Homo sapiens: one gene and its partners. The protein of the gene in region 6 interacts with the protein of the main gene of each other region in a pairwise test. Each region holds a gene or a part of one and is shown on either strand. Other genes may lie near its edges.

What was found.
Region 1: the proteins of TRIM14 (region 6) and MNAT1 interact in a two-hybrid assay, tested with the Homo sapiens proteins (one large-scale study listed by BioGRID).
Region 2: the proteins of TRIM14 (region 6) and RLF interact in a two-hybrid assay, tested with the Homo sapiens proteins (one large-scale study listed by BioGRID).
Region 3: the proteins of TRIM14 (region 6) and UNK interact in a two-hybrid assay, tested with the Homo sapiens proteins (one large-scale study listed by BioGRID).
Region 4: the proteins of TRIM14 (region 6) and IVNS1ABP interact in a two-hybrid assay, tested with the Homo sapiens proteins (one large-scale study listed by BioGRID).
Region 5: the proteins of TRIM14 (region 6) and ALG13 interact in a two-hybrid assay, tested with the Homo sapiens proteins (one large-scale study listed by BioGRID).
Region 7: the proteins of TRIM14 (region 6) and ZC4H2 interact in a two-hybrid assay, tested with the Homo sapiens proteins (one large-scale study listed by BioGRID).

The regions. Positions count from the first base shown.
Region 1 is NC_000014.9:60,965,261-60,968,760, reverse strand, and holds part of MNAT1 (CDK-activating kinase assembly factor MAT1), read right to left. Parts: intron 533-3,500; coding exon 412-532; 3' UTR 203-411; coding exon of another isoform or gene 175-202; 3' UTR 1-174.
Region 2 is NC_000001.11:40,160,129-40,164,186, reverse strand, and holds the start of RLF (zinc finger protein Rlf), read right to left. Parts: upstream 2,801-4,058; 5' UTR 2,788-2,800; coding exon 2,551-2,787; intron 1-2,550. UniProt on the Homo sapiens protein: May be involved in transcriptional regulation.
Region 3 is NC_000017.11:75,822,806-75,826,299, forward strand, and holds the end of UNK (RING finger protein unkempt homolog), read left to right. Parts: intron 1-459; coding exon 460-717; intron 718-1,456; coding exon 1,457-1,612; 3' UTR 1,613-2,994; downstream 2,995-3,494. UniProt on the Homo sapiens protein: Sequence-specific RNA-binding protein which plays an important role in the establishment and maintenance of the early morphology of cortical neurons during embryonic development.
Region 4 is NC_000001.11:185,295,888-185,298,065, forward strand, and holds the end of IVNS1ABP (influenza virus NS1A-binding protein), read right to left. Parts: coding exon 2,148-2,178; 3' UTR 501-2,147; downstream 1-500. UniProt on the Homo sapiens protein: Involved in many cell functions, including pre-mRNA splicing, the aryl hydrocarbon receptor (AHR) pathway, F-actin organization and protein ubiquitination.
Region 5 is NC_000023.11:111,726,170-111,729,669, forward strand, and holds part of ALG13 (UDP-N-acetylglucosamine transferase subunit ALG13), read left to right. Parts: intron 1-639; coding exon 640-886; intron 887-1,162; coding exon 1,163-1,276; intron 1,277-1,444; coding exon 1,445-1,601; intron 1,602-2,015; coding exon 2,016-2,136; intron 2,137-3,500. UniProt on the Homo sapiens protein: Catalytic subunit of the UDP-N-acetylglucosamine transferase complex that operates in the biosynthetic pathway of dolichol-linked oligosaccharides, the glycan precursors employed in protein asparagine (N)-glycosylation.
Region 6 is NC_000009.12:98,086,038-98,088,222, reverse strand, and holds part of TRIM14 (tripartite motif-containing protein 14), read left to right. Parts: intron 1-217; coding exon 218-753; 3' UTR 754-2,185.
Region 7 is NC_000023.11:64,917,451-64,920,950, forward strand, and holds part of ZC4H2 (zinc finger C4H2 domain-containing protein), read right to left. Parts: intron 2,804-3,500; coding exon 2,631-2,803; intron 1,755-2,630; coding exon 1,592-1,754; intron 447-1,591; coding exon 333-446; coding exon of another isoform or gene 314-332; 3' UTR 1-313. UniProt on the Homo sapiens protein: Plays a role in interneurons differentiation. Involved in neuronal development and in neuromuscular junction formation.

The DNA of each region.
Region 1 (3,500 bases), on a different chromosome or scaffold from region 6:
TTAACAGTAAATGTTGTAATCAAAATGGTATTTAAAATGTGTTCAAGTAAAACACTGTAATAAGAGAAAAACCACAGAACTTAATATAAATTATAGCTTTATTTTTTAAAAAGATTTTATAAGTCTGTCACAACCTCAAACACATATAGGTGAATTATTTATTCCTCTCTTCCATCAGATGAGGCTTATCGTGTCAAATCCTCTGAAAAATATAAGTAAAAATTATTTTTCACAAATATATATCCCCTATATTACTCAACTTAGTTCTGAAATTTTCTCCTTATAAATACTTTAACACAGCTGCTAGTGGAAGGACTGTGTTGTGCAGCTGCACATAGCTATAATTTTATAAGTCTGCTTTACTTTTGCTAGCTCCCTGGTTCAGCTCCAAGGTCCAAATCTTATAAATGGTTAACTGGGCTGCCAGAAAAGCCCACTGAATGCATCCTGTAGTGCTCTGTGACAAGCAAGAGAAGAAGTATAGCCTCCAGCAAGGTCCTGTGGTGAGGCAGCTCTGACATGGTTTAAATACCTAAAACAAAACAAGAAGTGTAGCATTGATATACAAAGCAAATATAAATAGGTAACATTTTAAAAAGCAATAGTAAAACTGATTCAAGTTTTAAAGAGGAATTCCGAGATTGAAATATTCAGACTTTTATTATAAATAGATTATTATCTTTCAAAAGGAAACATACCAACTGTACATGGAGTGCCTAAACTAGTATTAAATTACATAGCAAATTACCACGGGGTCTAAAAACAGTTCTGAAAGAGGTTTCAAAAATAATTCTAAAATATTCACTGCTTCACGATTTTCAGAGCTGATTTGTTTTGTTGGCTGTTTTTTGGACACCTAACTAATGCTCTCCTTCCTGGCATATGCTTAAGAAATACACAGTATCACAATACTATTATAGTACTGATATTTCTACATAAATTTGTTTTAAAGCAAACCCTCAATAGCTAAACAAATGGAAGAGGGGAGAAAACGTATGAGTTACTTCAAAAGTACTTTAATATTCCAAGAATATATTGTCTCATTCCTTGCAGGAAAGGAAACATTAGAAAATTACATGTTGAAGAAATCTCTGAGACTGAGCCTGAGTTCAAAATAATGTCTGAAAAAGTAAATACAGAAAAGTCTCATTGATCTCAACAATATAACAGTACAATTTTTTTCTGCAACCACACAGTTTTTTTAAAGCAATTAAACATTTATATCTTGACAAAAATAGACAAAACAGGCCTAAAAAACATTGGACAATCTAGCCAAAGAAGGGCAACTTAGCATGACTACTAACACTTCTGGAAACAAATAATTCCAGCTTTCTTTTAATGCTTAGTTTAAGAAACTAACTTGTTTCTTCAGGAAGTAAAGGAGCTTCACCCACCTTAGAATTACTGGTATGGCAAATGAATAAATCAGGTACCAGAACATTTTAATAACTTGGAACCTTTTTCACTCATTCATTCAAACTTCCTGTGTGTCAAAATCTTAATGCATGAGCAACTTATAACTTCTAACATAACAAGTCTGTTTTTCATCTGTATCCATGTTTAATAAACCTGTGTAGCTAAAACATATAGAGCAATATAAGAGTCCAGTAGAAAAAATGGGTCAAGGTAGGATGCAGCTAAGTTCCTGGAATTAGCTATAATTTATTCACATTGCCACAAATCAAGGTTTTAACTCAATTATTTGCTTCTCTGCCAAGGGCGAAAGGGGAAAGCGGAAGGAAGAAGAGAATATTTATTGAACAAAAACAAAAACATTTTTGATAGTATTTTATAGCCATAAAACATATCTCAGATATGTTTTATGTAGAATACTAATGTACTATATGTTACTATATATAATTATATACATAAGATACTAATATAGTCAGTGTAATATAAAAATATAAATAGAAAAAGGATGAAATAAAAATATTTAAATAAAAGTTCTGGCTGGGTACAGTGGCTCACACCTGTAACCCAGCACTTTGGAAGGCCAAGGTGGGCGGATCATCTGAAGTCAGAAGTTCAAGACCAGCCTGGCCAATATGGCAAAACCCCATCTCTACTAAAAATACAAAAACTTGGCTGGGCGTGGTGGCACATGCCTGTAATCCCAGCTACCCAGGAGGATGAGGCAGGAGAATCACTTGAACCCAGGAGGTGGAGGTTGCAGTGAGCCGAGATTTCGCCACTGCACTCCAGCCTGGGTGACACAGCGAGACTCCATCTCTAAATAAATTAATGAATGAATGTTTTAATATTTTCTCCATATACTGTATCTTACATATCCTCATGGGACACATCCCACTTTAGAGACTACTATTATTAATTAGTCATTGTTGTCTGGGTGTGGTGGCGCACACCTGTGAGCCCAGCACTCTGGGAAGCCGAGGCAGGTGGATCACCTGAGGACAGGAGTTTCAGACCAGCCTGGCCAACATGGTGAAACCCCGTCTCTACTAAAAATAGAAAAAGTAGCCAGGCACAGTGGCAGGTGCCTGTAATCCAGCTACTTGGGAGGCAAGAGAATCACTTCAGTCCATGAGGCAGAGGTTGCAGTGAGCGGAGATCGCACCACTGCACTCCAGCCTGGGCAACAGAGTGAGACCCTGTTTAAAAAAAAAAAAGAAAAATAGTCGTTGTTAAACTCTTGATAGAACCTTAGGTCGCATAGGATTGAAATAGGGATTCACCACACCTACCCCATGGCCATAAAGTTATCTGCTTATTACTTTCCAAGACACAATAAAGTATCAACTGTTAAGATTCTGATGCATGAGAAATGAAGTAAATGTTAAGTTACCTCAGAAAGGTCTAAAAATTAACCTGGCTTCACAGGGAATTCAATAACTATCATACAAATAATAAGTGAGTAATATTTTTATAGGTAACTTGGAAATGAAATGTTCCATTCCTGATACAAGTTTCCAGCTAATTTTTATCCGCACACCAGATGATAATGTATCACCCTTTCCTTTCCTCAGATCCTCAAAAGAAAAGCATAGTCTTAGCTTCAATAGATGTTCACTTATGGTAAAATTCAAGCACCACAGTAGAATGTTTGTCAACCTTGAAAAGCCAAACATCATAAATGAGAATTGGTTTTCATAGCTGTAATACAAACCACTGTGCAACTAACTGTTTTGATTCATCACATTTTGGTACAGCTTGCTTCTGGGAAAGTTGAGTCATACCATATCTGGCTTGGCAATTTGAGCATAAACTTGCAGTGTGCATACAGCTTTTTATATGTTATCCTGAGAAACCTGAAACAGCTGCACTGCTGGCAGGAAAACAGAGGACCACCAGTAAAATATTCAAAACAGTTGCATCTTTTAATTTATGGCCATGTTTCCATAAAGAGTATATAAAACAGTTCAGCTTTATAGGTAAAATGTTATAAACAGTCATACTCCTTGATGCCATAAATGTGTAAAAAAAGTTTTATCTAAATGATTAGTGCTTGAAAATAGTATTTCTTGAACATAGTCATAATCCAG
Region 2 (4,058 bases), on a different chromosome or scaffold from region 6:
CCCATAAGCAGGGGTCAGACCTTTATAATGTAAAAATGCCTACAATCTATCTTTATATATTATGTGCTCCTCTCCTAGAGTCCGAGAAAACTGTCTTAACTAGGCTCCCACCTTCAGAACTGTCACACAATCAGTGTTCCTTAAGTAAATGAATATATCTTATTCTTCTTTTCAAATGTGAAACCAAGAGCTATTCAACAAAATTTACTGATGGTGAAAATTTTCCTGCTTCTTCATACAATTTTTACTTTTTCTCTATCTGGTCATCAAGGACACAGTTGATCTTATCTGGACTACAGGGGAAAATGTGTCAAAAATATGATAAATTTTGTGAAGACTTGTACACAAATTTTCTATTCTGATTGTATAAAGCATTATAAGGAGATAAAGGTCAGAAAATAAGATAGTTTTGCAGACATGGTTACCCAAGGTTATTAGCTAAGCAGTGGTAAAGTCACAGTCAAGACCCAACTTAACTCCCAATCCCATGTGCTTTCTATTACAATACAGTGTTACAGGAATACTTGTTCTTGTTTCATTTATTAGTCTAAAAAACATTTTTTGGGAAAATTTTAGGTTAAAAAAAACTTCATAGAAAAGACAAATTACACATGCTTTCTTTTAAAAATTCTTCTGGGCCATCACATCTCTGGTGTCACCAAGACTCAAGACATTAAAACATTACCTTAAACAAAACTGCAGTTGCAAGCACTAGACATAAAGCAGAATACATATATATGTGATCCTTTGACAAGCTTCAATGTGACTGGTTACATTCATTCTTGTCATCTTTCCAGGGAGACAACTCAAGCTTAGAAGCCTTACCCAAAACCCACAGTTGTTTTCCTGCACCACCCCTCTCCTTCCATTAGTTTCCCCTCCTCCCATAGCATTCTGGGTCCTTACCAATCTCTACCTTTGGCACTGGGATGCTTTCCCCACCCCAGACCTTCACGTGACTCATTTTCATCCTTGCAGCCCATAGGGTCTTACTAACTAAAGTGGCCTCTCCCAGTTACTTCTTTCTAAGCACATACTACAATTTATAATTAACCTTTTTACTTATTTTTCTAGTTAATTGTCTTTCCCATCAGGATATCCCATGAAGGCTCTCTCCTCACCATTGTCTCTACAACACCTCCTTTTCCATCATTACCAAAACCGCACTGGAAATACTGTCATTCCTACCACCTCCCACCAACTGTAAGTTCATCAAGGCTAAGTGCTGTCTTACTCATGTTTCCCCAGCACTTGGTAAAGTCCCTGGCACTATCCTATGAAGTCAGTAAAAATCTGTAAAATAAATGAGCTTACTAAACAGGGATGACTACTACTAAGGAAGCAGAGAACAACAACACGTTAACATTTAATAGTACAGGGCAATGTTGCAGGTTGTACACACAAAAATTGGAGTGGTACAATCCACGGAAAAGATTAGTAAGGACAAAATTCCATTCAGAGAGATGAGGTGCTTCTGCCTCGGCAGAGAGAGGGAAGAAAAGCAATCAAGCAAGCTAACTTTTATTCTACTCCGGACCAACAGAGCAAATTGCCCCCCAAAATTATTATTTTAGAACGCCGCAATTTATTCAGCATACTGGACTACTTATTAGACTCCAAGTACCAACATGCCACGATTATTTTGCATTTTCTAAGGTACAACAGATAAGGAGCTGATGGGTGCCTCTGAAACCTGACAGAACAAACATTGGAAGCAGAAATAATAATGGCCAATATTTGTATTTGTAAAAGACTTGAAAACATACAGAAAAATCTCGGAGTGGTCATGGAGACTAAACTAAACACACCCATAAATATGTAATCATAGGTTAGGACCCACCAAGGCACAGAAATGATCATACGACTGCCAAAAGAGGCCACACTCTACATCCCTCTTCCCATCCTCTTCTACTCAAAGAGTCAGCCTTATTCTCGGTAGCACAATCCTCTCAAAGAAATACAGAAAAGACGAAAGAACGGCTTAAACGTAAAAAAAAAAAAAGCAAAAACCAAACAACCAACCGGCTCCGCAATCCCTAATCAGAAAGCTCTAGACGCCTTTCGAAGCCAACTGTCATACCTTTTAGGAGCCCAGAAGATGTTAACTCCAAAAATAAGTCTCTGGCCCCAACACACCTCTCTGGATTATTCAGAAAAACCCGGGTTTACCAGTTCGGAGATCTGCACTCCACTCAAAAAAGGATCTCCCGGCAGGGACAAGCAATCAATCCCTCAGGGGGCAGTGGCGCTCCAACCACCCGGCCAGGACACAGGCAACGGCGACAGGGCACAGCCCTTCCAGGGACCCGCCAGGGCCCTCCGGGATCTCAGTAAGGCTCAGAGCAAAACGACCCAGCGGTGGCCAAAGTCGGGCAGTGGCGCAGGGGGGCCAGCGGTCGAGCTTCCGAGCTGGGCCTTCCCGGCCCGGGGGCGCGGCGAGTCACGGAGGTGGCGCCTTTCAGTTTGGACCCGGCTGCTTACAGAGGATCCAGGGCCTCCTTCCCTGACTTCCCCGCCCCGCCGCCCTCAGCCAGCCAGTCAGCCCCTCACCTGGCAGAAGCTCCGGCAGTAGTTCAAAGATGAGACCTCCGACACCTCTTGCTCCCTCAGCTCTGTCTCCAGCTGCCACAGACACGGCCGCAGTCCCGAGGCTCCCGGCGCTGGAGATACGGGGCGATGACCCCGAACCATGGACTCAGTCTCGACTCCATCTCCGGCTCCCGCTACCGCCGGAGCCTCAGCCCCAGCCCCGGCGACAGCGGCGGCGTCTCCCTTTCCGTCCGCCATCTTCCCACGGCCCACCAGCGCGTAGGCAACCAAGCCACGTGACTCAGCCCTGGCCCTGCCCCCGGCCGCCCGCGCACTGTGACGCACTCCTTAGCGACGCGGGCGCCCGCCTGATTCCGTCACTCGGACTCCGGGTGCTCTCAGTGGCCTACGCATCGCCAGTCCTGACAACAGCCTAGCAACAACTGGCTAGAGGCTATGCCCACCTAGACCCCTTTGAGGTCATGGGATCACGGAGCCAGAAATGCCTGTAGAGCAATCTAGATTTGAGGGGGATGACATTTGAACTGCGATCTGAAGGGACAAGAGGAAGGTAGCCCTGAAAGGAACATAGCGAAAAGCATCCCTGGTAGAAGGAAAATAAGCAAAGATTGTGAGGCCGAAATGAAGAGTAACATCAAGGGAACTTGGTTTATGATACAGACGGCATTACAAGTCAGTGGGCGAAAGGACAGACTCTTCAATAAATGGCGATGAGACATTTTTTCCAAAAGGGAAATAAATGATTAGATTTCTACCTCAAACCATTTCCAAAAATAAGGCCGAGATGGATTAAAGACCTGCAAACATTTTTCAGAAAATAAAAATAGCTTTATAATGTCAAAAATAGGGAAGAATTTTTTTTTTTTTTTTTAGACGGAGTCTCACCCTTGTTGCCCAGGCTGGAGTGCAACAGTGCTATCTCAGCTCACCGCAACCTCCGCCTCCTTGGTTCAAACATTCTCCTGCCTCAGCTTCCGGAGCAGCTGGGATTACATGCATGCGCCACCATACCTGGCTAATTTTGTATTTTTAGTAGAGATGGGGTTTCTCCATGTTGGTCAGGCTGGTCTCGAACTCCTGACCTCAGGTGATCCGCCCGCCTCAGCCTCCCAAAGTGCTGGGATTAGAGGCGTGAGCCACCGCGCCCGGCTAAGAATTTCTTAATAAGACCGGAAAAGCACAAACCATAAGGGAAAATATTTAGATTTGACTGTATTAAAATGTGTTACTTCCGTATAACAAGTTGAAAAAGCACACAAAGACAAGCCACAGACTAAATGATATTCCCCATATATATAACCATTGTTTATTGTTGTTGTTTTTTGAGACAGGGTCTCACTCTGTCACCCAGCCTGGAGTGCAGTGGCACGATCTAGGCTCACTGCAACCTCTGCCTCTCAGGTTTAAGTGATTCTCGTGCTTCAGCCTCCCAAAGTAGCTGGCACTATAAGCGTCCGCCACCATGCCTGGCTAATGTTTGTATTTTTAGTAGAGGCGGGGTTTCACTG
Region 3 (3,494 bases), on a different chromosome or scaffold from region 6:
GGGAGGACTCGCTTTGCCAGTCAGGACCCTGGGTGGTTACTGTTGTTGCAGGCTTCAAATTCTCTCTGTGAGCTGCTTGTAGTCTGTCCCAGGATCACCTGCCTCCTCCCAGTAGCCTCGCCTCTCCAGGGTTTCAAGTCCAAGGTTCTGGGTTCTGAAATGGGCCCCCTGTCCAGCTGCAGCCGGCTACCCTATGGGTGCTGGCCAGAATCCCAGCTCTACCCTGTGTCCCTGCTGTGCTAGGCCCAGGTCCCTTTCCCTGGCCACAGAGGGGAGAGTCTCCTGCAGGTTCTGAAACCTCTGTGCAGACAGCATCAGCCTCCTCCTTGCCCTCCTCCCAGAGAGCCAACCCAGCTTCCCACCAGGCCTCGCAGCCAGAGTGGCCCCCAAAAGATGATGCTCTCTGGGGACAGGGGCAGGGCAGGGCCATTGTGATGAGACTGTATGCTGGCCCCACAGGCTTGTGATGCCTGGAAGAAAGAGGCGGAGGAGGCTGGTGAGCGGGCCAGTGCGGCGGGCGCCGAGTGCGAGCTGGCCCGGGAGCAGCGGGATGCACTGGAGGTGCAGGTGAAGAAGCTCCAGGAGGAGCTGGAGCGGCTACACGCGGGGCCTGAGCCCCAGGCCCTGCCCGCCTTCTCCGACCTGGAGGCGCTCTCACTCTCCACCCTCTACTCCCTCCAGAAACAACTGCGGGCCCACCTGGAACAAGTGGACAAGGTCAGCCCAGGTCGGGGAGCACTGGGTGGGATGCACGGTGGCCTCAGCCAGCTCTTGGACTCTGACCTGGTCCAGGCTGCTCCAGGGATGGCCACCCTCCTGAGAGCCTCTGCCCAGCACTGGGCCAGCACTCAAAAGGCCGGCCTGCTGGGAATGGGTGAGGAGAGTGCACTGGGGAAGGTGAAAAGGCTGGGGGTGAGGGGTGTCGGTGCCACCCCCAGCACCCCTGAGGGCGGCCCTGACCAAGCTTCTCACAAATGCCTGGGCCCCAAATGCGTCCTCCTGTACACCCTCCATGGAGCAGCGGGCCTTCCAGTGAGGCCCAGGACCCCAGGGCTACCCCTGCCTTCCCAGGTCTCCTGCTGGGTCCCCGGGGCCAACGTGGCATGGTGGGAAGAGCTGTCTTTCCTCTGTTCTCGGGCAGCCAAGCCCCCGGGTGTGGCCCTGGGCATGTCCCAGCCCTTTCTGGGCCTCATTTTCCCCATCTGGGGATTACAAGGTCAAATGAGACTGGGCGAAGCCTCTCTGAGGGGTGGGTCTTGTGGCAGCCTGGCCATGCCCCATGCAGAGGTGGACTCAGCCTGCTCTCTCACCTGCCAACAGGGGTCTGGGAGCACACTGTTGAGCTCGGTACCTCAGTTTTCCCATCCCAAGGGGCTGCAGTGAGGATCAAGGGAACTCCTCGCTCAACTTGGGGCCAGACCCATGGATGGTGACCACGATGCCCCTTTCCCTGCAGGCCGTGTTCCACATGCAGTCGGTGAAATGCCTTAAGTGTCAGGAACAGAAGCGGGCAGTGCTGCCGTGCCAACACGCTGCGCTGTGTGAGCTCTGCGCTGAGGGCAGCGAGTGCCCCATCTGCCAGCCTGGCCGGGCCCACACCCTCCAGTCGTGACCCTGCAGGCCTGGCCCAGCCTGGCCCAGATCTTCTCACCTAGGACTTTTTAAAGTATATATATATATATGAATATATATATATATGTGTATGTATGTATGTATATGTATATGATTATGTATATGTATACATTTCCGTATGTATGTATATGTATACATTTCCGTATGTGTGCAGGTATGCGTGGTGGTGTGGACAGTGTCTGTGTGTATATCTGTACATAGATATAGACACACACTTTAAAAGACTTACCAAGCACTTTTTAAAAGAAGAAACTATTTTGCAGTCCTCCCCTACCCACTCCCTGCCCTTCCCACTGCAGAGATGACATCCCCTCTTCTCCCACTGGCCTTTTGGCAGAGAATCTGGTTCTGTCTCTTTTTTAATGTAGGAACTAACTATTTTTAACTTCTTCCTGGGGCCTGAGCAGGGAAGGGTGGGACTGGAAGGCACTAAGGGGAAGGGAGAAGCCCTCAGGGCAGGCCCTGCTCCCCCTACCTCCTTGCCAGGGCAAGGGTGGAGTGTGGAAGACGTGGGTCCCCCAGAGCAGGCCTGGCCCCCAGCTGTGAGGGCCTCAGGGAGGCCCGAGGGGGAGTGCTGGGGGTCTCAGCTGGCTTAGCTCCTAAGTTTACCAAATGTTAATTTAGTCTTGGGGAGAACAGCAAGGGCTGGAGGCCAGTGCTGCAGGGCCAGCCCCACTCCTGACACCTGGGCCCTTGAAGCTCCTTGAGGGGCAAGGCCCAGGAGTTCCAGCCCTCAGGTTCCTGAGGGTCCACCCTCAGTCCTTCCCCCCGCCGCCCCTCCCCGGACTCCCCACAAGAGCCTCCCTGGCCCCAGGGCCGCCTACCAGGCTGGTACTCATTCTATGACCACCGCCCCCAACCAGCTGCCCCCAGCTCTCCCTGCCCCCTCCCCTCTCTGGCAGCTAGCAGGGCAATTGGCGGGGAGGAGTGCGGACTGAGGACTGAGGACCAAGGGGGCCCAGGCCCTGCCCTCCTACCCGGAGGGGCTCCGTTTGCATTCCTTGGTGCTCTCTGAGTGCAGCTGGTGTCCCGCCCTGTTCTGGGCGGACGCCTGTGTGCGTGTGTGTGTGCCTGTCCAGTGTATATTGTGTCTTAGCTTCCATTTTAAAAATTGTTCTGTACAGAGAGAGATGCAGCAGGGGCGGGAGGGCAGAGTGGGCGGAGGGGAGCAGCCGCACCCCCAGCACCGGGTGTCTGCGGTAGGAACAAGAGGGCTGAGAGGGTCTGGTCCTGGCCCAGGCTCCCCCTTGGGCTCAGCACGAAAGGGCTTTCAATGAATTAAGTGAAAACTTTTTCCTTTTTTACAAAAATGCAAAAATCAACAAAGCTCCAAACCTATTGGAAATAAAATATGAACTTGCAGTGGTAGCTTGTTTACATGGGGGTGAGGGGGAGTGGGTCCCAAAAGAGGGCCTCTGAACTATGAGGTGGGCCAGGAGCCTTGCCTCAGCCATGGAAACGGCTGCTGCCCACACCCCTGAGCTGTGGTAAGGCAGCTGGAGAGGGCTGGAAACTTCCTGGGCCCATCAGGCCCCAAGACAGTTCAAGTGCTCTCCGACCTAGGCCTAGCGGTTGATGACACAGGGACCCTTAGCCTTGGACACAGAGGCCCCCCAGGCCCTAGGACTCTTTAGGGCTGTGTGGTCAGCGGTGACTGGCAATAGGGCCCGTAACTGTTTCTCAGAGGAACAGTGTCTTCCCAACTGGGCATGGTGGCGCATGCCTGTGGTCCCAGCTACTAGGGAGGCTGAGGTGGGAGGATCACTTGAGCCCAGGAGGTCGAGGCGGCAGTGAGCCATGATTGCACAGCTGCCTCCAGCTTGGGTGACAGAGTGAGATCCCATCTCAAAAACAAAAACAGG
Region 4 (2,178 bases), on a different chromosome or scaffold from region 6:
GAAGCCAAAAATCAGAACCCTACATTTAAAGTTCATAATAAAAGATCCACCCGAGTATAACCAATAATATTTGGTTTAGATATTTTATAGCTTTTCTACCTTTTTAGGAAATTTAGAGTGTTTTATTAAGTTGACCAGAAGTGTGGTATTATCAATATTATTTTGAAACTATTCAAAAATTCCTACTGGTTAAAAAGCTTTTTTTTTTTTTTAAATTGTGCTGAGGCTATGCCATTTTCTCCCTCTCTGAAGAAAGTATGTACCTTTTAGATACAGATTAACAGTAACAAATGGCCACTGAGCACTGCTTTTTTTCCTTTATGGAAACTTCTCATGTTCATGCAGACTAGCTACAACAGCTTCTTAAAAAAAGATACTTTTTGGCCACCAAACTACCTCTTTGGCATCCAAGGTAATGCAGGAAAACTTTGACCCAAAGTATTCCCATATATTATTTGCATTAAGCATGTCACTTATGAAATGAGAAGTGATCTCAAGGATTTTAGTGCTGAATCCTCAACTAAAATTTTATTTCCTTGTGCTGAATAGAACACATACAGATCCATATTAAAAACAGTCATCATATTAGGCAAATTCAATCTGTCAATGTAGTTTTAGTCCAGAACCAAACCAGTGATAGTTAGGAATTACAGAGTTACCAACCAAACTGATTTGCTTTCCTGGTGGTTCTTTGTGTAACAGATGAGAGAAATAAAGTGGCAGAGTACCAGTGAACATTTGGAGAAAATACCTAATTATTTTCTTCCTAACCCAAGTTAGCCACTGAATAGTCATCTCAGAATAGTCACCTCATCCCAGTTGGCCCATTAGGTTCCTGTGTGCTTCATCTTCTGTGAGAAAAAAAAACCTTATATCATTCCTTATTTCAGATGTAAGATGCCAGGTGAGTTATTTTCCACAAATTTCTTAAGCTCATTACTGGAAAAAAAAATTTCTCAAAACTTTTAGTAATGAATGAGTGTACAAGCAGCAATTGGATATTAATCCCATGGTGCAAGGATTTCCTGCAAAGTACCTTTAATGTGTTTAAATCAGCAGCAAGCATTAGGACATGCTATTTTGGCCCCATAAGTTAGGTGTGTAGCACTACACATTAGACACCAAGTCATCCCAACCAATATTTATCCATATGAACAGATAAACTGAACAAAAACATAGTTCTGATAAAACCTGCATTCACAACCTAATGTAGTTTAAAGTAAATTTTTTCACAATTGAGGGCTGCTATTTAGGACTGTTTTGTTAATAATAAAAACAGGAATTATATAGAAGATAAAACACCATTTTTTACTGCTATATAATGTCTTGCTATATAAAACATACCCTCAACAAGTCAAAATATTTAAAACCAGTGTTTCAAATACCAAAAATCACAGCTATGTTACTGTTCAGTAACTCCACTCAAATAAATGTTAGTACTGCATTCTTGAAGGAAAAAAACTGCAGCCAAGGCAAGAACTCTGAAGTTTGCACTCAGAGTTTAAAAGACAGACCCCTACTCTGCAAACTGAAGACTGCCACTCTGCTTCAATAACTCCAGCCTGCCACATTTTACTTCAATTGGTAAAGCACTCTGCTGAGAATATAAAAAGTTATAAAAAGGCAATCATAAAAGATTAAATATTGGTAGGCATGTAAGCTTCCTTTTAATAAAAACAAAAATAGTCAATGTCATCTATTTAAATAAGTATCCTTTGTTATAGAGTGTTCCAGTTATTGAAAAAGGGCCCTTAAAAAACCCAACTGTCTACATCTTTAAACCCTACCCCTTTTACCCCATAGTACACATTTGAGGGAAGAGTCATTTAATGTGCAAATTGGCAAAACAAATGTGGAGGAGAGGGGACTTCTTGAAATGATGTGCCCAATCAATTCTTGGTTTATTCTTTTCCAAAAAGTAAAATAACCAAAGTCTTAAAAGTACACAAAACAGACCTTCATCTTTGCATTCCTTTCCAAATAAACCCAAAAAGTATGTACAGCATGTTTAATAGTATGCAATATGCAAAAGCTTTGTGTTGCTGTTAGCAACATCTATACCCACCCACCCTCTTTATTCACAAGTGTACCTCTACTAACCATAATTACATCACTAAGCCTGTTAGTTTGAGAGGGTCTTAAATTTGTTAAAACTGGAAAATCTTTGTATAGGGGCTC
Region 5 (3,500 bases), on a different chromosome or scaffold from region 6:
CTCCTGACCTCGTGATCTGCCCGCCTCGGCCTCCCAAAGTGCTGGGATTACAGGCGTGTTTTGTTTTTTTTTTTTTTTTTTTTTGAGACAGTCTCACTCTGTCGCCCAGGCTGGAGTGCAGTTGTGCGATCTTGGCTCATTGCAACCTCCACCTTTCGGGCTCAAGCAATTCTCCTGCCTCAGCCTTCTGAGTAGCTGGGATTACAGGCGCACGTTACCACGCCTGGCTAATTCTTGCATTTTCAGTAGAGACGGTTTCACCATGTTAACTAGGCTGTCCTTGAACTCCTGACCTCAAGTGATCCACCCACCTCGGCCTTCCAAAGTGCTGGGATTACAGGCGTGAGCCACCGTGCCTGGCCATGGATGACTCAGTGTTTTGATGACCTATACTAACCTGCCCATGCTGGGGATAGTGCCGAGATATACCCATTGATACAGAAATTACCTGCTGGTTTTGTCCTTCCAAATAAAAGATCTAGTATATCCTTCAAAAATACAAAAATTCCCTCCCTATGTTTATTTGGTTTGTTCCTAGGGGAAGCATTGGAAAGTTTAAGGCAGTGTGGTGGTGACAGTACACTGGGCCTTTTGCTTTGATTATGAAGCTTATTTGCTACCTCTTTGTTTGCCTGAAAGTTATATCAGAGATGGACATAAAGCAACAGAAGAAGATGTTCAAGAAAATTCGAGGGAAAGAAGTTTACATGACTATGGCTTACGGCAAGGGAGACCCCCTCCTCCCACCCAGGCTGCAGCACAGTATGCATTATGGGCACGATCCTCCAATGCACTACTCACAGACAGCTGGCAATGTTATGTCTAATGAACATTTTCATCCTCAGCATCCATCTCCGAGACAAGGTCGGGGATATGGGATGCCCAGGTAAGACATTGACAGATTTGTATTTTCATGGTCTAGGGAAATATGAAGCAATTGAAGAGATCCAAGAAGATAGAATGCCATCAAGATGAGGGTCTCTGTGACATACAGACTGTATTTCATTAATAATAGTTAGCCCTAATGCCAGTATTGCAGAGAGCAGAGCTCTTTCTAGTTGAATGTTTTTAGAAAGACAGATTAGTTCTATTTAACTACAGAGACTGACTACTTAGGTATTAGTGAATAGAGAGTTCTAGTTTCCTTTCTCTTTATTCTTAGGAATTCATCTCGGTTTATAAACAGGCACAACATGCCGGGCCCTAAAGTTGATTTTTACCCAGGCCCAGGTAAAAGGTGCTGCCAGAGCTATGATAACTTCTCTTATAGATCTCGGTAAGTATTGTGTTGAAAGTCAGAGAAAATTGGTAAGTCTGATTTCATTGCTGAACATTAATGTTTTAAAAAGTGTCAACTTTGAGATATTTGAACTGTTATTTAGAAATTAGGAACAAGTTACTATATTTCATCATTTTTACTTTTTTATTATTTGAACCACTTAAGTTCATTTAGACGTAGTCACCGCCAGATGAGTTGTGTGAATAAGGAGTCCCAGTATGGATTTACCCCAGGGAATGGACAGATGCCCAGGGGCTTGGAAGAAACTATTACTTTTTATGAAGTTGAAGAAGGGGATGAGACTGCTTATCCAACTTTACCTGTGAGTGGATCAATGCTTTACTCAAAAAGCTGTTTACTTTTTTCATTTATTTTTTTGAAGTAAAGGCAATGTGGATAAATTTTAGATTTTGTACAAATAACCAAACAAAGCCTTTTCTGGAAAATGAAAATGAGAAAAGAGACATTTTCTCCCAGCTGTTCCTAGAGAAGGGAATAGAGGTAGACTTGATAATCTTGCCTATAGAGTATGGGTTAATATTTTCTATTTTCTTGATTTTTACTTCATATTTTTTGTATTCTAAACTGCATGGAAAACATTTAATTACAGAGTTCTCTTACAATAGCAGTTCACATTGTTAGGCTAGTTTTTAAACTGCCTTTTAAAACATCCCTCTAGCTTTTTTTTCTGACTATATAGTGAGAACTGCAGTGTGTGTGTGTCTCTCTGATACAGAATCATGGAGGTCCCTCTACAATGGTTCCTGCTACTTCAGGATACTGTGTTGGAAGGCGGGGACATAGCTCAGGCAAACAGACTTTGAATTTAGAGGAGGGCAATGGCCAGAGTGAAAATGGTGAGTCAATTACAGTTAAATATTTTTTAAAAGATTCTTGTGGCATTAGCACATCAGGCCAGTGAAGTAGACCAATTTGGTTTTGGCGTCTCTCTCTGTTCCAGTAGCTTAGTTCTGAAAGATTTATATAAGTTCTTAATGCTTGCTGGGTTTTTGAATATGTCCTGGTATTTCTCAGAAGAGTAGACTTCTATTTCATTAGGCTGCTACATTGTTATAACTTGTTTTCAGCTCTCTGCATAGGTCTTTAGTGAGTTTTGACTTGGTGTCAGATATCAGTATGGAAAACATCTATTCGTTGTTAGTAGGGCACTATTGATAGTTGTCCTCACCATTTGTATATGTTAGGCTTTTCGTGTGACTGGCTATTATTTTTTAAGACTACTATGAAGTAACTATTCGATAGTTACTTCATACTATGAAGTCTATTTGATCTATAAACATTACTCTTTATTGAACCCTACGTGATACCCACTCTACTAAGTCATTATATTCATAATATAGTCCTTCGTGTGCTCTTCTGAGGAATGTGCTGTCCCTATTTTACATATGAGGAAATTGAGATTCAGAGGGTAAATGACATGGCTAAGGTCATATCCTTGGTAAATGGCAGAGATATAATTTTTTGTAACTTTTATTGAGATATAATTTACATATCATACAATTCAGCTATTTAAAGAATACAATTCAATGGTTTTTTATTCAGAGTTGCATACCATCAACACAATTAATACTAGGACATTTTTATCACCACAATAGAGAAATCCTGTGCCCATTAGGAGCCATTCCCCATTTGCCCCAACCCCCAGCCCTTGGCAACCATCAGTCTGTTTTCTGTCTTTATGGATTTGCCTCTGCTGGACATTTTTTATAATTGGAATCGTATACACACACATAGCCTTAACAGTTTTTATGTTGACTCCTACCATGGAATGTGTTTATTTTTACCTTGTTACTTTTAAAAGATACTGTATATCCCTATTGAAACAATTGTGGAGCATTGAGTGGCTTAAGGAGGTGTCAGGCATTCCTAATGACTTGACTTATGAATAAGTTCCTTATTTTCTTGTACTCTTTTTTTCTACTAGTGTAGAAAAAAAATAGATATTTTTAGGAATTTAATGAGTAAAAAAATCTAGTGCAAGAATGATCTGTGAAAACTTTGTACGTGTGTGCATGCGTGTGCTTAAGGACATTTACTGTCTGCTCTCTTATTTAGATGACCCTTTTGTCTTTTAGCTCTATGGGTAGTGTGGCATATTTGAAATAACCAAATCTTTGCTCCCACCTTAAATCTGGAGGAGTTTCATGCGTGTGTGTTTGATAAGTGGTGTGTTTAAGAATCAAATTTAGTTTAGAACTGC
Region 6 (2,185 bases):
ACAGTATAAGGGATGTGCAGCAGAGTGATCTCTTCTTCCCCTTTCCCCAAGACCCCGCCCCAGGGGCAGTCGCGGTTTAAAGGGGTCTGTCACCCCTTCCTTGGGCCATTTCCGCGCTTCGCATTTTGTGATTTGCACGTGCGTTGGTGGGTTCCCGGGGGCGGGGCGCCGCGCTGGCCCCGCCCACCAGGTGCGTCCCTTGTCTCGCCCCCTGCAGACGCGCGCACGCCCACGCTGGATCCTGACACGATGCACGCGCGCCTGCGCCTGTCCGCCGATCGCCTGACGGTGCGCTGCGGCCTGCTGGGCAGCCTGGGGCCCGTGCCCGTGCTGCGGTTCGACGCGCTCTGGCAAGTGCTGGCTCGTGACTGCTTCGCCACCGGCCGCCACTACTGGGAGGTTGACGTGCAGGAGGCGGGCGCCGGCTGGTGGGTGGGCGCGGCCTACGCCTCCCTTCGGCGCCGCGGGGCCTCGGCCGCCGCCCGCCTGGGCTGCAACCGCCAGTCCTGGTGCCTCAAGCGCTACGACCTTGAGTACTGGGCCTTCCACGACGGCCAGCGCAGCCGCCTGCGGCCCCGCGACGACCTCGACCGGCTCGGCGTCTTCCTGGACTACGAGGCCGGCGTCCTCGCCTTCTACGACGTGACGGGCGGCATGAGCCACCTGCATACCTTCCGCGCCACGTTCCAGGAGCCGCTCTACCCGGCCCTGCGGCTCTGGGAGGGGGCCATCAGCATCCCCCGGCTGCCCTAGGGGCCAGGACCGGCGTGACAGCCTCCAGGTACGCCGCAGCTGCCCAGTCTCGCCTAATCTACCTAGATCAGCGTGGCTGGTCCCCTTACTGCCTGCTTCTTAGGGCCCTCTCCCTGCCCCAGCTTTCCCCGACCAATCACGCCTACAGTGCTTTGAAGGTTTCCTCTCCTAGGCTAGTTTCAAACAGGCCCTAAACAAGTCTGCTGCTGCCCTCTCATCAGACCTCCGCACCCTCACCCCACCATCACTTACACTACTTTAATCCAGTTCCTTCAAAGTGATACCCCCACAGGTAAGCCCTCAGCATCCTGAATACATCATCCGCAGCCTGGGAACCTTCTCCCTCGTACAGCACAGGAACCTGACACATAGTAGGCACACAGTAAACGTTTGTGAATGAATGGGAGTCATCCAGTCCTGACTCTTCTGTCTCTTGAGGTCCCTTGAATCTTCCGCTTCCTCCCCACCGATTTCAGCGTGTCCACATCACAGCTCCCTCCAGAAGCTGCAAGAGCTTCTTAGCAGTTCCTGGTCTGAACCCTCTCCCAGTCCTCATCTTCCACCCTAAAACTAGAGTGATCTTCCTAAAACTTCACTTAACCCCTCAGCTATGAAAAGGCTTCCAGGAGTTTCCATGAAATAACAAAAAAAAATACAAGCGCCTCACCTTAGCATTCAAGGCTTGTCTAGTCTGCCCAAAATTACTTATCCTCACCTAGCTCCTACCACTCTTCTTAGAGACTCTCCAGTCAGAAATGTGTCGCATAGTTCCACCTCCACACCTCTCTGCTGCCAGCACATTCATGCAGAAAAGTCTTTTCACCTGTCTCAGTCTTCCGCAGGCTTACCTGCGCCAGGAAGTCTAACCAAGGAACAAGAATCTCACTATCAGAGCCACAAATCTGGGACCTGTCTTTCCAACTAAATTGGAGGCTTTGGAAGGGCAGCTTTGTCCTATACTCTCTCCACCCTGAAAAGTTCCCAGAAAGCCCCTTCCCTCCCAAGCAGTGAATTAATAACCAGCAGGTGCCTATCACTGAGTAACAGAAGAGCTGAGTTAGGCGGGCCTCACAGGTCACCCAGCCAGATCTCATCTGGGGAGTCTGAGGTCCTGAAAGAAAGCAGAGCTGCGTAAAGTTACCCCGGGGTGATATAGGGGGGCCAGACGTGTGCCCCGTTCACCCACCCCCAGGCAAGCATCTGACCTGTCCCCTGGCCCAGCCCTTAGGCCCAGCTTTCAACCTGCTTACTCATTTCTCAGGGGATTTTGGGAAGGAATCAGCAGGTGACAGTTGCTAAGCAACCAAAGGGGGTGGTGTTTCCCAACTGTCTTGGGACAAAAAGGGTAAGAGCACCCTTAGATCCAGATGTTGCCAAGGAAACCCAGAGTGCCCAGCTGTCTGGAATGAAGTGACAGAGGTAGAAAACAGTA
Region 7 (3,500 bases), on a different chromosome or scaffold from region 6:
TTAGGCTCCAGGCCTCAGGCACAAGAGATAGAGAATCATATCTGAGCCTTTTGCCCTTCCCTTAGCTCCAAACAAGGGCAGGGGTTGAAATGTGAGTGGGAGAGAAGGGATCATCAGACACACTGTTTAGCACCTGAACCACATCTCTTCCTAAACCAGAAATCCCAAGAGCAGAAAGAAATAGGAGCAAAGTGAGAGAGGGGTTGTGCTTCCATCACATTAAATAGGAGACTTCGTGGGGTTGGGCAAGGGTTGTTTCACATCAGGACATCAATGACTCTGGTCAAGGTGAGGGGTTATAATTAGCAAAGCTTCATGTGCTCTCCCTTTCTTTATTCATCCTGCTTCCGTTTCGGCTTTTTGGGGTTCCGGGACCGACTCTTGGCCTTGCAAAGAGGGCATATAGGTGCATTCCGGTGAATTTGCTGGTGACATGACAAGCAGGCCTGGTGAGGGACACAGGAAAAAGAAAGTTAGTAGTCAGATTCTTCCAGGCAACAACTTAGACTTCTGATTCCCCAGGGGCCCAGAAAGCAAAGTGATTTCCCATCAGAAGAGAGCAATAATCAGTGAGTAGACTCAAGTATTCTTGGATGCCATGGAAGATGGGAAGGAAGGACATAACCCAGTTCAGAGAATGGTGTTGAGAAAAAGTATACAAAACTAGAAAGTAAGGCAAAATGAGAACTACACATCTTTTCGTCATTATAATGAAGCATTGTCTAACAGGCCCACTTAAGGACTATTTAATTTTCTAGAACAGGGGTCAACAAACATTTTCTGTAAAGGCCAGGACAGCAAATACTTTAGACTTTTTACATCATATAAACTTGCTGCAACTACTCAATTCTGTTTTGCATGAAAGAAGTGATAGACAATAGCTTGCATGCATGTTGTTTGCAATAGCTTGCAAACACAGACATGCATGTGGGCCAATAAAACTTTAACGAAAACAGGGAACAGATTAGATTTGACCTGTAGGCTGTAATTTGATGACCCCTGCTCTAGAAGAATGTCTCTTTGTTTGACTATTTACCAATTGATTAGGACCCAGGCTCTGTGATGTTACACTGATAAGCTGCAAATGGCTTTTGCCCAGTAGAGATGCAAATTACTTCTGTTTGGAAGAAAAAGTAACTATAAAGTTACAGTTTTATTGTCCTGTGGGATGTAAACCAGTTTTGCATCTAACTTTGCAAATTTGTTTCAGCCTTCCTCTCCTTTCTTGACTATATAGATATTTGTTCCAAATGCTCCTGGAACCAGCTTTATAATCCTGCTGGTTCCCTCATTTATGATACATGCTCATTACATCTTTGTGTAAGAGTCATTTCTAACTTTTAGAATTGCACTCTAGCAGGGCCTGAAAATCTCCCTGCATTCTAACACCTCTGGGAACATGGGGCAACAAAACCTGTGCTGTGTGTGTCCAACACAGCACACCCATGTCACCCCTTCCACTGTGTCACAAGCAAAGGCCATTAAAAGAAGGCCCAGCATAAATAAAGCCAAAGACCCAGAACTAGCCTTCCACGGCCCTTCCATGGGAGGATACTTTGCTTCCTCCACAACCATTACCCAGCTCACTTACCTTCATAGGTGGGGGCTGCTGCCTGAAGGTGGCCGTCTGCCGAGTATCCTGCTTCCTAGCCACTTGGAGCTGTTGGGCGGCAGCGGCTGCAGCGGCCAGGGACTCAGGGATGGGGGGCTCCTGAGGTTCTGTCTGCCATTCTGCTTTCTGCTTCTCAAAGTAACTTTGGAGATGAGAGACACTGGCTAGATCATTCTGAAAGCAATGAGAACCTTGCTCCTCTTAAAGACTCCATGCCATACAACCAAGGGTTGAGCTGTGGCTCATTCTAGAAGGTCCCCACACCTTCCCAAGCACAAGGCTATTGTCCCTGGGTACTAGGCCCAATGTCTGATGAGAAGGGTAATCCTCTTTGTCCTTAGCTCTGATAGGCCAAGAAGACCAAGAAATCTTAGGGCTAGCAAGATCCTTAAAGGGTATTCAGTCCTATCTGCTATCTCATGCTCTTTTGAGTATTCCTATTAAGTGTCCTAAGGCCTCTGGTGACATATCTCTAAGAGTAGGAAGCTCACAAACTCCACAGACACCTTGCTCTACCTTTAGGAAATGATTTCCTCTACCAGGTCAAATTCTGTCTCTCTGCAAGGCAAGCCTAGTTCTTAACTCTGAGCCAGGAGATGAAGTAAGTCCCAGGCCACTTCCTGAAGACCAGGAAAGCTCAGTCTTTTTTGTTTTTAGAGGTTTCTAGATATCGCCTTCTAGACCCTGACTTGGGAAATGATCTCTTAAGAGTTATAGACATAGTCTTGTATTGTCAATATCACACAAAGAATTTAAAAAGCCACCTAGTAGTTGTTCTAATTCATCTAGTAATTCATCCAGTTTAATAATCCTCCTTCTGTTTTAACAAGCTGGCACAGAGACTTGCCCAAGATCACACAGTGAGTAAGCCACTGAAAGGCCTGGGACTAAAACTAGGCACTCTGACTTTCAGGCTAGGCTTTGTGTATGTATACCTGCCCGTGTGTGTGTAGGTATGTAAGTATGTATGTGGGTCGGAGGGAGGGTATGTTGTAGGGACTGGGGGCAGGTAGCTTACTCCAAGGAAAGCTTCTCCTCTTCTTCACACAAGTCAGGGAGCCTCTGCAGGCCCAGAGTCATGCGCAGGGCATCCACATGTTCTTTCAGTGGCTTATACTCATCATGCAGCCTCCTTGTAGACTCTAGCAGCTTGTTTAGGTCATTCTCAGATTGTTTGATAGTGTTTTCCATCTGGAACATAGAGTGGGATAGGCACAGAGAAAAGATCCTAAGGTTCTCAGAGAGGATCTATAGCTGAGTGAATAATAGCACAAGCTCCAGAACTTGTTCAGTCTATATTCAAGTCCTTGATCTCCCATGCCCTCTCCATGTAACTCTGGTCAAGTCTCAGTTTCTTCATCGGTATAATGGTGATATTCTAGTGCTTAACTCATGCAATCTTGGTGAAGATGTAATGATAGGATTCATATAAAGCACTCAGTAAATGGGCTAAATTAATATTTACTGCTAAATAAATGGTATTGTTCAAATATAGTATCTTAGAGCTGGAATGTCCTTCAGAGCTCATTTAGTCCACCTTACTCCCATTTTATAGAAAACTGAGGCTCAAAGAGAAAAAGGGACTTTCCTGGGGAAATACTTCTTAGTATCAAATCCTGCATAAAGACTTAGGGCTTCCGCCTCCCAGGCCAGCAGTCTTTTCTCCTAGATCAGTGATTCTCAAAATGTGGCCAAGGGATCAGCAGCATCAGCATCACCTGGGAACTCAGAAATGCATATTCTTAGGTTCACCTCAGACATACAAAATCAGAAAATCAGGGGTGGAGTCTAGCAATATGTGTCTTAGGCTCTCAAAGTGGCTTTGATGCATGCTCAAGTTTGAGATCCACTGGCTTATATTCTTAGCCCTTCTGGCAAATATCTTCCT